Linked DNA regions of Homo sapiens. The protein of the gene in region 1 purifies or fractionates together with the protein of each later gene. This does not show direct contact. Each region holds a gene or a part of one and is shown in the gene's direction. Other genes may lie near its edges.

Region 1 (3,754 bases):
GAAGGAGCCAGCAGTATAGATGAAGAAACTAAGTCTGGGAGAAATGTTGCTTAAAGTAACCCAGCTAATGAGTTTTTGAGCTGAAATTTGAGTCCAGATGTAGAGGACCCGTAAACCTATGCCTTTTGTTTTACACTACATGCCAGGGCCCAAGGTCATGTTAGAAAAAAAAACAGAGGAAGAGCACAAATAAATTTGAACATGTAACCCTATGTCTTGTGTCTAATTAGGCTTTGTGCAATTAACATAGATTATTTCCTTGCTTCCTCACAACAACCTGTGAGGTAAAACGTGTTATCTCCATTCTACAGATGAGAAAACTAAGGTGTAGGGAAGTGAAGAAATTTGTCTTGGAAGGGTTAAATTACAGCTAGAAATTTGCCTTGGAAAGGTTAAATTACAGCTAGGGACAGAATTGCAACTCAAACACAGATCTGCCTGATTACCAAGTCCACGCCTGTTCCACAGTAATGTCTGTCCATAGATACTCCTGGTGTAAGGTAAAGGCCTCCCACAAATCAAGCCTGACTCATCATCTCCTAGAGCCAGGTCTTGACCTGCTTCCCCAGTTTCTCTCCAGATCCCCATATGTTTCTACTTCGGTACGGCCAGGACTATACCTACTATCTTTCTGCAGAATAATGGTCTGAGGCAGCCTTAAAACTGGCCGAGCCCTGCTGCTTCACATTAACCATCTGGGCTAGGTTAGCTCCCATAGATTACTCTTCCCCTTCCTCAGGCTTCTCTAATGAAGCCCAATAAGGATCTCAACACCTTCCAAGGTAAACCAGAAAATTATAAGTCAGAGTCCTTAAACGTGGCTGCACATTAAAATCACTTGTGAACTTAAAAAAATCCTGATGCACTAGTTACAACCCAGGCCCATTACATCAGAATGGTACCCAGGCATTCATAATAGTTAAAGCTTCCCAGATGATTCCAATCTACAGCCAAGATTGAGAACCACTGTTACGGCATCTTCTTCAAGCTCCAGCAGCCATACTCAGTAGTTTCCACATTTTAGGTTTTCATAGGAACTTCTTGGAGCACTGGTAAAGAGCCAGATTTCTGGACGCCATCCCAGAGAATCCTGGTTCAGACCCAGGAGTCTACATTCTTAATAATCACCCCAGATAGTTTCACTGCAGATTATTAGCAGACAATATTTTGAGAAATGCTGCATTAGAGGCATGGAAGTAGGATGGGAACAGGAGGCCTCTGGCCCTTTAAGGATGGATTAAGGGACTACTTTTAAGGCTGTAGGGGCAAGTAGGATCAGGCTGCTTTTTTTCATTCTAGTGGATAAGTTAAGGAAGTGGGTCCTGAAATGGACCTCTCCTTTTAAGTTACCTGAGCCTCTCAATAGGTACTATCTTGTTCTCAGCCCGGGAGAGCGGGAGGGGCATGCTGCCTTGTCCCACCTTCTGTTTCTGTTTCTTTTGATGCAAAGAGGCCAAGTTATGAGGCAACTTTGGTCCAGGAGATCCTCTTAGAGAAAGCAACATAGGGCCTGCCTGCCTTTCTTTTTCTTGCCCCATCCTTGGTTGTGGAGCCAGGATGCAGTTATCTGCATGAAAGGAAATGGTCAGAGTGACGTCCCTTGGGCTTGTGTTGGGGCCTGTTGTTGAACACTAAGCCTTTCAAGATGGTCCTCCTCAGTATTCTTAGAATTCTTTTTCTTTGTGAACTCGTGCTTTTCATGGAACACAGGGCCCAAATGGCAGAAGGAGGGCAGTCCTCTATTGCCCTTCTGGCTGAGGCCCCTACTTTGCCCCTGATTGAGGAGCTGCTAGAAGAATCCCCTGGCGAACAGCCAAGGAAGCCCCGGCTCCTAGGGCATTCACTGCGGTACATGCTGGAGTTGTACCGGCGTTCAGCTGACTCGCATGGGCACCCTAGAGAGAACCGCACCATTGGGGCCACCATGGTGAGGCTGGTGAAGCCCTTGACCAATGTGGCAAGGCCTCACAGAGGTGAGTTGTTATGCCCCCATACTGCCCTGGAAGGGAGAGAAGTGGAGAGGAGTGTAGAGAAAAGGGAATTGGTGGGTTTACTGTCAGGCTTTGTTGCCTTGTGGGCAGGTTGTTTCTTTAGGCTTGGTTTTCAAAGGATGGCAAGCTTTGGAGAAGCCAGCGCCAAGCCTACTTCCCTTTAGGGCATCAACTTAAGAACAGATTGCCTTGGTGCCTACTGAGAAATCTTTCCCAGGCCCCAGGACAACTGAGTGATGTGCCATCACCTATCTTTCACAGAAACTTTTATTGCTTGTGATAGTTCTGAAAACTGTAGAGACATATCCAGCTATATTCTTGTGGAGGGCTATTTAAGTGGCGTTTTGCTCTTAGAGTACAGCTTGCTGAGTTGGGGAAACTTATAAGGCCTCAGAAAGGACATAAATAAGCTTACATCTGAGGGTCTGTATACCTGGCTCTGTGAACATGTGCTACTGTATTTCTTAATGAAAGCTACTATCTTAACTGTCTTGATGCAATTAGCCTAATTTTAAAACTAAGGCACGGAGAGGTTAAGTAACTTGCAAATGGTACACAGATAGTGGGTCGCAGAGATGGGATTGCAGCTGAAGTCTGTCTGATTCTAAAGTCTGTCGGTAACTTCTTAAGTCTTTAAATGCAGTATTCCAATATCCTTGTACCCCCAATAGTTTTTCTACTTGGGCCATATTGCTACTTTGGGATTCTGGGACTAAGTGTATTTTGGAACTTTTTTTTGTCCCCATCATGCTTGATTTTGCTTTTAACATTTGCATCAGACATTGTTGCAGGACAACAGTGGGCTATTGAAGTGTAGGACTCTCTAGAGAATGCAGACAGTCATCAACTTCAAGGAATTCTTGGGAACCTAGTGAGATCAATCTGTAGCCTTCACTAGTCTGAGATGAAAAGGGACAGGACTTAATCCCCTCCCCAAGCAAAACAATAAATATTCTCGTACCTAACCCTTACTGTGAGATTACTGTGTGCCAGGCATTGCACAAAATGTTTTATAAACATTATCTTAATCCTCACAACTACCAGATTAGGTAGTATTAACATGCCTACTTGATAGGTGAAGAAACTGAGGATCAGAGTCACTTACCCATGTCATACAACCAGTAATTGCTAGAGCCAGGTATCAAACCCAGGCTCTCAGGCCCAAAGCCTGTGTGTTAATCATCTTGCTGTTCTGACTCCCCACTGGATTTTAATTGAGTGCCAGGCAGTGTGTTTGGGTTGGGTATATAGAAGCAAATACTTTTCCGACCTCTAGAAGTTCCCAGTATAGTGGAATGGATAGATAATTACATAATAATGTTACAGTATGCCAAGTGCTTTGGAAAGGACAAACAGTAGGGCTCCCAGGACCTATGAGAAGAAATGGCTCATTTCTTGAAGTGAAGAGACTGTTGGAAGGCCTCATGGAGGAGGTAGTACTTGAAACTGACCTTGCAGAAGGAGCAAAGAGGTCATGCATTGAGGCAGATAAGTGCATTCTGATTTAGGAAAGAGAAAATGGTGTGGGTAGAGATTCATTGAACAAATATTAGGTGCCAAATGTTGGCACCTACTGAGTACTAGGCATACAGATGTGATCAAGATAGGTAAAACCCCTACTTTCATGGAACATATGTTCTCGTAGGGGAGACAAATAAGCACACACAGTTAAATTGTGAATTGTGGTAAGTGCTATCAAAGGATGAAGTAGGTTGTTAAGATAGAGAATGGCAATGAAACCTTCCCTTTCCATGGACTTGTCA
Region 2 (3,754 bases), on another chromosome or scaffold:
GCTCCTAAAACAGTGCCTACCACATAGTAGTTGCTTAACAAATACTGAGTATTCTGGTAAATAAGTACACATCTAGTATCAAATCTCTAGCTAACAATGAATTTGTATTATTTCTTTTAAAGAAAGTAAATAAATTCTTTGTAAAGGGTAGCCTGGAAAATAAAACAACAGTGTTTTTTGTGAAACACAGGCTTCCATTGGGAAATTTTTTTCTTATCTACCTTCCCTCCCTCTGCAGCAAACTCAGTGTCTCTTCATATCATTATCTTCCCCAGTTTCCTGAAGAAATATTCTAACAGAATAAAAGGAACCTTTCTACAAATGTAAACCTTATTTACAAAAGCAATTTGACATTGCTACTTCTGAAAAACAGTATACATAGACATCCTGGCTAACATGGTGAAACCCCATCTCTACTAAAAACAAAAAAATCAGCCGGGTGTGGTGGCACGCTCCTGTAGTCCCAGCTACTCGGGAGGGCGAGACAGGAGAATCGCTTGAACCCGGGAGGCGGAGGTTGCAGTGAGCCAAGATCGCGCCACTGCACTCCAGCCTGGGCGATAGAGCGAGACTCGGTCTCAAAAAAAAAAGAAGAAAAAGAAAAACAGTATACATAGAAGTGATTCTTATTTCCAGTTTTTATTTAAGAGAACACACTGTTCTTCAGACCTCCTTGTCTATAATTGCCAACCAGAGATTTGTATAAGTGTTAACTGCTTTGCAGCCTTACTACTTCAGTAGCATTTCATGAACAGAAGATTTAATTAATTCTGAGAAGTTGGGCTTACATTCTGGAAGAGGTGACTATGCATCAGTTAAATGAATTGAATTTGAGGAGAGAACAACTATTCTGCTTTCCTCATTTCAGAAGCCACTGTCACTTATTCTGTGACCTATCGTAAGACTCTTGGCCCTCATTTGTCTCTTTATTGTGTGCCTCTGAGTGTAAAAGTCTAACCTCTACTGCAAACTCCCTGATTTAAAGGCTGTGACATTTTTTTCTTAACTCTCTATTATCCCATCTTCTTTATAATGTGACAACCAAAAGAAATTTGAGTAAGAAGCCTGCCAACTTTGAGATAGGCCGTTACTGCTTCATCATGCTCTAACATGACAGGATAGGTTTCTTGAATATATTCAGTCATACTCAGGATTCCCATTCCTGAGCCCTACTTAAGTAGAATAGCAACTTCATGTTTTGTTCTCTCTTGAAAGTATCACACAATAAAAACAATGTAATTTTTTTTATACTAATATCCCTTAGGTAGCCTTTTATTGGTCAGAAATTCTTCTACTGTGTTTAAATTCCTTACTGATCTATAAAGGTCTATTCAAATCTTATTTTGTTCATTTATTTTATAAATATGTATTGAATACATATTTATAAAATAAATGAACAAAATAAGATTTGAATAGACCTTTATAGATCAGTAAGGAATTGAATACTTATTTGTATTCAATACCTATTTGTATAATTAAGGTTATAAAGGTTACACATACATTATGTCATTGGTTTGACATTGGATTAGAGTTGGCATAGAGGAGATTTAATCTAATTCACTTGGACAATTAAACAATTAAAAGGGACATATAGTCCCTTCAGTGTACTGTTCTTGGTGCTGTTGACCTAGGATCCAGTGGGAGCATTTAATCCTGTGTAGATAATAAATAAAATCTCAGGATTCAGTCTTCTCTTGCTGTTGACAGTGGGACTGAACTGTTTTCCTTATGCTTAACCTTAATATTTTCCATGTTACTATGTGGAAATGTTTCTGGGGCAGAAACATCCTAGTTCCATCTCAGTGATGGTAGTGATTTTATGCTGTTGCCTTCTTCACAATACCCTTATGTAATGTATCTTACCTTCATAAAACTTATATTCATTTATTCAGTAAACCTTCATTGAACATCCTATACTAGGCTCTGAGGATATAAAGATAAAAAGAAGTAACTCCTGCCCTCCAGGAACTCTCAATCTGGTCTGCAGGAAGACATGCAAACGACTATTACTGTAATTAGGATCATCATTATGAAGTTCATATAAGATATTCTAGAATGTGGAGGAGGGAGTTCATAATTCTGCAGATAGCCTGTTTGGAAATGTCCAGGAAAAGTTTCACCAAGGGTATAATAGTTGTATTGAGATGAGTAAACCTTTATAGCTAAAGAATTGGGCAAAAGTATCCCAAGCAGAGGAATAGCAAGTGTAATTCCTGAAAACTTGAACGAGCATACTGTACTCACCAGTTTGTAAGTTTATATTCACTTGAGTATTTAACCTAAATAAGCTCCTTGAGACCAGAAATTTACATCTGTTTTGGTCACCATTGTATTCTCAGGTTTTATCACAATGCCTGGAACATAGTATTTAATTTAAAAAAATCTTTTTACAAACAGAATTACACAAATCCTCAACAATCGTCCACATATTTTCTCTCACACAGCTGCCTCCTCACTCCCCTTTGCAGCACCTGATGTACCTCCTTAGAAACCTAGACTCCAAAGAACACTGTTTGACAACCACTGCAGTAGAACATAATATATCAAGATTTTAGGAGTGGGTTTCTTTTTTCATTTTTACATGTTTTAGAATAACATGCATAATCAAAGCTAATAATACTGTGTTTTCTTTACTCTTTTATTTGCCTCTAAAGACATCCACACATAGTGGTGAACTGATTTTTAATGCGTTTTAAATAAAAGGCATTGAAAAATATTAATAATTGTAATTACTAAAAGTATTTCTCTTTGCGATTCTCTTATCTGTGTTTCCAGACCGGTTGGAGGGTGACAGATCAGAAGGCTCTGGTCAAGAGAATGAAAATGAGGATGAGGAATAATAAACTCTTTTTGGCAAGCACTTAAATGTTCTGAAATTTGTATAAGACATTTATTATATTTTTTTCTTTACAGAGCTTTAGTGCAATTTTAAGGTTATGGTTTTTGGAGTTTTTCCCTTTTTTTGGGATAACCTAACATTGGTTTGGAATGATTGTGTGCATGAATTTGGGAGATTGTATAAAACAAAACTAGCAGAATGTTTTTAAAACTTTTTGCCGTGTATGAGGAGTGCTAGAAAATGCAAAGTGCAATATTTTCCCTAACCTTCAAATGTGGGAGCTTGGATCAATGTTGAAGAATAATTTTCATCATAGTGAAAATGTTGGTTCAAATAAATTTCTACACTTGCCATTTGCATGTTTGTTGCTTTCTAATTAAAGAAACTGGTTGTTTTAAGATACCCTGAATTTGACTTTTTATTTAATGCCTTGCTACTTTGACCCACAGTTTTCCAATCTCTCCTGTAGCATACGATGACTATTTTTCTATATTTTCTAGATTTAACAACCTTTTCCTTTTTTGCTTGTGTGGGATAGAATCACATAGAAGGACTTCCTTCATTTCTCCTTCCACGGTACAGCTGACCCTTGAGCAACCCAGGGGTTAGTGGCACCAGCCCCCCTCACAGTTGAAGATTCATGTGTAACTGTTGACTTCCCAAAAATTTGACCATTAACAGCCTGTTGATCGCAAGCCTTACTGATAGCATGGTCAATTAACACATATTTTGTATATTTTATGTGTTATATTCTATACTCTTACAATAAAGTAAGCTACAGAAAAAGTGTTATTAAGAAAATCATAAGGAAGAGAAAATATATTTACTGTTCACTAGGTGGAAATGGATCATCATAAAGGTCTTCACTGTTGAGAAGGCCGAGGAAGAAGGAGGCGTTGGTCTTGCTGTCTGAGG
Region 3 (3,754 bases), on another chromosome or scaffold:
ACTTTGAATTAGTAAACCCACACAGAGCCAGATTTTTAAAAGAAATTAAAGACCTTGCTATCAAGAGGCGCCAAATTTTAAGCAACAAAGGTCTTTCTGAAGATGAGAAGAACACAAAATTACAGGAACTAGTGCTGAAGAATCCATCAGGTTCTGGGCCTCCACTTAGCATAGAGGATTTAGGGTAAGCATTATATGTACATTCTTCAATCCAATGCATGAATAAGTTTTAAAGCTTTTGTTTCTTTGTCGTCACTGATTTGCAATATATGAGTAAATAGTCTGTCAAAAACAGTAATATGCTGTAGGAAATATTGATGATCGACTTGAACCTTTGATTTAATATTATAAAGACAACACTCAGAATACTAGAATATTAGTTTATTAATCATCAAACCTTTAGAAGATTACCTGACTTAGCCAATGTGAATTTATATGCCTGTGTAAAATGTCCAGAGCCAACAATATTTTGACAAATTCATCTGCTAATATATGATTCACTTTGCAAAGCTCAAAAATTGGTTGGTATGTCAGCTTTATCACCAAAGGCTGTAGCAGTTGAGATGCTGCAGAACTTTTGATAAAACTCTGTTACTTTATGTACAGGTAATTATCATATCTTCAGCTGTGATTTTAGGTTAACTGCAAGGCCTTTTTTTTTTAATGTTTGCTGATAATGTTGGTAAACTGTGTTTGATAAATGGTTATATATTCAAGGTTTTTTTTAATATATATTTTTGTACACAGCGTGATTGACTTCAGTAAAGCAACAGTTTCTTCCTAAAAGTCTTACAAACATGTTGCTGTCATAATTCATTGCAAAATTTTTAGTTCATTAATTTTGTGCCATAAGTTAGAAGTAAAATATAGAAAGGTGGTTTCATGCAATCTTTGCAAAGCCAGACAGATTTGATAACAGTTGGCCTAGTAGATTTTGTCCATAGAATATTGCATTTAAAAAGTCCTCAACTTACTTCTAAGCTGGTGTACTGATTTTGTTGGAGGAGGAGAGGGGTGGGATTTATGGTTTTGATAGCCATGTTATTTTATTTAATTTTTTCTCTTGTACCCACTGATGGCAGATGATAGTAATGTTATAAAAATTAAACACCATTAGTAGTAGCTGCATGTCAGTTAATTTAATCTTTTTTGTCCTCCCAGTTTAAATTTCCAGTTTTGCCCTTCCTCAAGAATATATGGTTTTACAGCTGTGGATCTCAAGCCAAGTGGTGAAGATGAGGTAAAAAGTTTGCTTTTAATATAGTTGTAAGTTCTGACATATCCTCTTAGCAAGGCCAGTTGTACTAGACACTCCTGAAATATTCCTAGATACTGACAAATTTTCTTTTGCAGATGATAACAATGGATAATGCAGAAGAATATGTGGATTTGATGTTTGACTTTTGTATGCATACGGGTATTCAGAAACAAATGGAAGCCTTTAGAGGTAATTTTAAAGGATTTTTAGCATAATTGCTCTCCTTTCACTTTGAGACAGTTGAAATTATGGTCAAGAATTGCTGGTGGTCGGCTGGGCACGGTGGCTCACACCTGTAATCCCAGCACTTTGGGAGGCTGAGGCGGGAGGATCACCTGAGGTTGGGAGTTCGAGACCAGCCTGACCAACATAGAGAAACCCTGTCTCTACTAAAAATGCAAAATTAGCTGGGCATGGTGGCGCATACCTGTAATCCCAGCTACTGGGGAGACTGAGGCAGGGGAATTGCTTGAACCCGGGAGGTGAGGTTGCGGTGAGCCGAGATCACACCATTGCACTCCAGCCTGGGCGATGAGCAAAACTCCGCTGCACAAAAAAAAAAAAAAAAAAAAGAATTGATGGTGGTCGGGTGTGCGGGTGTGGTGGTGGCTCACACTTGTAATCTCAGCACTTTGGGAGGCTGAAGCAGGAGGATCGCTTGAGCCCAGGAGTTCCAAGACCAGCCTGGGCAACATGGCAAGACCCCATCTCTACAAAACATTTTTTAAAAAATTAGCTAGATGTGGTGGCACGTGCCTGTGGTCCCAGCTACCTGCAAGGCTGAAGTGGGAGAATAGTTTGAGCCTGGGAGGCTGAGGCTGCAGTGAGCCATGTTTGTGCCACTGCACTCCAGCCTGGGCAACAGAGGGAGACCTTGCCTCAACAAAGAAAGAAAGAAAGTGGACATAGGTTGCATACATTCTAGATTACTTGATCAGGATGAATTAACATGAAAGAATCATGATGGGAACAAAGTATATTACAAGGTAAATTACTTTTGAAAATGAGAACACAGTTTTGCCTGACTTGTATGACAGAAAGAGCTGGTGAACTCCAGACTGAGTAGTAATAAGAATTTGCATACTGACCATAGCAACTGAATGTTCTCTCTCTGTTCACGTTTGTGATGTTAAGCAGGGATTTCTAATTTAAAATACAGTTTTAATTTCAAGCTGTCTTAATTTATGCTTGTTTATTCAAACATTTATGAATGTTGAATATTCATCTTCTGTCCATTTCATCGGTAATGGGTATTTTTTTATTGTTGCATAATATATGTACATGTTTATGGGGCATTTTGATACACAGAATGTGTAATGATAAAATCAGTCTTTAGGACATCCATCATCTTGGACATTTATCATTTCTATGTGTTGGGAACATTCAAATTATTCTCTTCTAGCTTCTTTGAAATATATATTATTGTTAACTATAGTCACCCTACTATGCTAGAAAACATTAGAACTTACTCCTTTTATTTAATTGTAAGTTTGTACCCATTAAACTACCTCTCTTCATCCACCCCCACATGCAACATTCCCAGCCTCTGATACCATTCTTTTCTTTACCTTTATGAGATCAACTTTGTTGTTTTTGTTTTTTTGAGACGGAGTTTTTGCTCTTGTTTCCCAGGCTGGAGTGTGATGGCACGAACTCGGCTCACTGCAACCTCCACCTCCTGGGTTCAGGCGATTTTCCTGCTTCAGCCTCCCGAGTAGCTGGGATTATAGGCATGCACCACCACACCCGGCTAATTTTGTATTTTTAATGGAGATGGGGTTTCCCCATGTTGGTCAGGCTGGTCTCGAACTCCCACCCTCAGGTGATCTGCCCACCTCGGCCTCCCAAAGTGCTGAGATTACAGGTGTGAGCCACCTTGTCCGGCCAAGATCAACTTTTTAAGTTCCCACATATGAGTGGGAACATGTGATACTTGTCTTTCTGTGCTTGGCTTTTTTCACTTAATATAATGACCTCCAGTTCCACCCATGTTCCTACAAATGAAAAGATTTCATTCTTTTTTTTTTTTGAGACGGAGTCTCAGGCTGGAGTCCCAGGCTGGAGTGCAGTGGTGCCATCTCGGCTCACTGCAAGCTCCGCCTCCTGGATTCACGCCATTCTCCTGCCTCAGCCTCCCGAGTAGCTGGGACTACAGGCAGCCGCCACCACGCCCGGCTAATTTTTTGTATATTTAGTAGAGACGGGGTTTCACTGTGTTAGCCAGGATGGTCTCAATCTCCTGACCTCATGATCTGCCTGCCTCGGCCTCCCAAAGTGCTGGGATTACAGGCGTGAGCCACCGTGCCCAGCCCATTCTTTTTTATGGTTGCATAGTATTCCATTGTGTACATATACCACATTTTCTTTACACATTCATCCCTTGATAGATACTTAGATTGATTCTGATAATGGGTATTTTGGTTTGAAATTTGGTATTTTGGAATCGTAACTTGGAAACTGAGTTGTATGTTTGTTTTTTGTGTTTCCGTTACATGT

The links.
Region 2: the proteins of BMP15 (region 1) and DCAF6 purify together in Homo sapiens (affinity purification with mass spectrometry; 3 studies listed by BioGRID and IntAct, with this or other methods). This does not show direct contact.
Region 3: the proteins of BMP15 (region 1) and HECTD1 purify together in Homo sapiens (affinity purification with mass spectrometry; 3 studies listed by BioGRID and IntAct, with this or other methods). This does not show direct contact.

Annotation. Positions count from the first base shown.
Region 1 is NC_000023.11:50,909,139-50,912,892, forward strand, and holds the start of BMP15 (bone morphogenetic protein 15 preproprotein), read left to right. Parts: upstream 1-1,596; 5' UTR 1,597-1,645; coding exon 1,646-1,973; intron 1,974-3,754. UniProt on the Homo sapiens protein: May be involved in follicular development. Oocyte-specific growth/differentiation factor that stimulates folliculogenesis and granulosa cell (GC) growth.
Region 2 is NC_000001.11:168,072,596-168,076,349, forward strand, and holds the end of DCAF6 (DDB1- and CUL4-associated factor 6), read left to right. Parts: intron 1-2,775; coding exon 2,776-2,840; 3' UTR 2,841-3,241; downstream 3,242-3,754. UniProt on the Homo sapiens protein: Ligand-dependent coactivator of nuclear receptors. Enhance transcriptional activity of the nuclear receptors NR3C1 and AR. May function as a substrate receptor for CUL4-DDB1 E3 ubiquitin-protein ligase complex.
Region 3 is NC_000014.9:31,103,076-31,106,829, reverse strand, and holds part of HECTD1 (E3 ubiquitin-protein ligase HECTD1), read left to right. Parts: coding exon 1-184; intron 185-1,161; coding exon 1,162-1,240; intron 1,241-1,353; coding exon 1,354-1,447; intron 1,448-3,754. UniProt on the Homo sapiens protein: E3 ubiquitin-protein ligase which accepts ubiquitin from an E2 ubiquitin-conjugating enzyme in the form of a thioester and then directly transfers the ubiquitin to targeted substrates.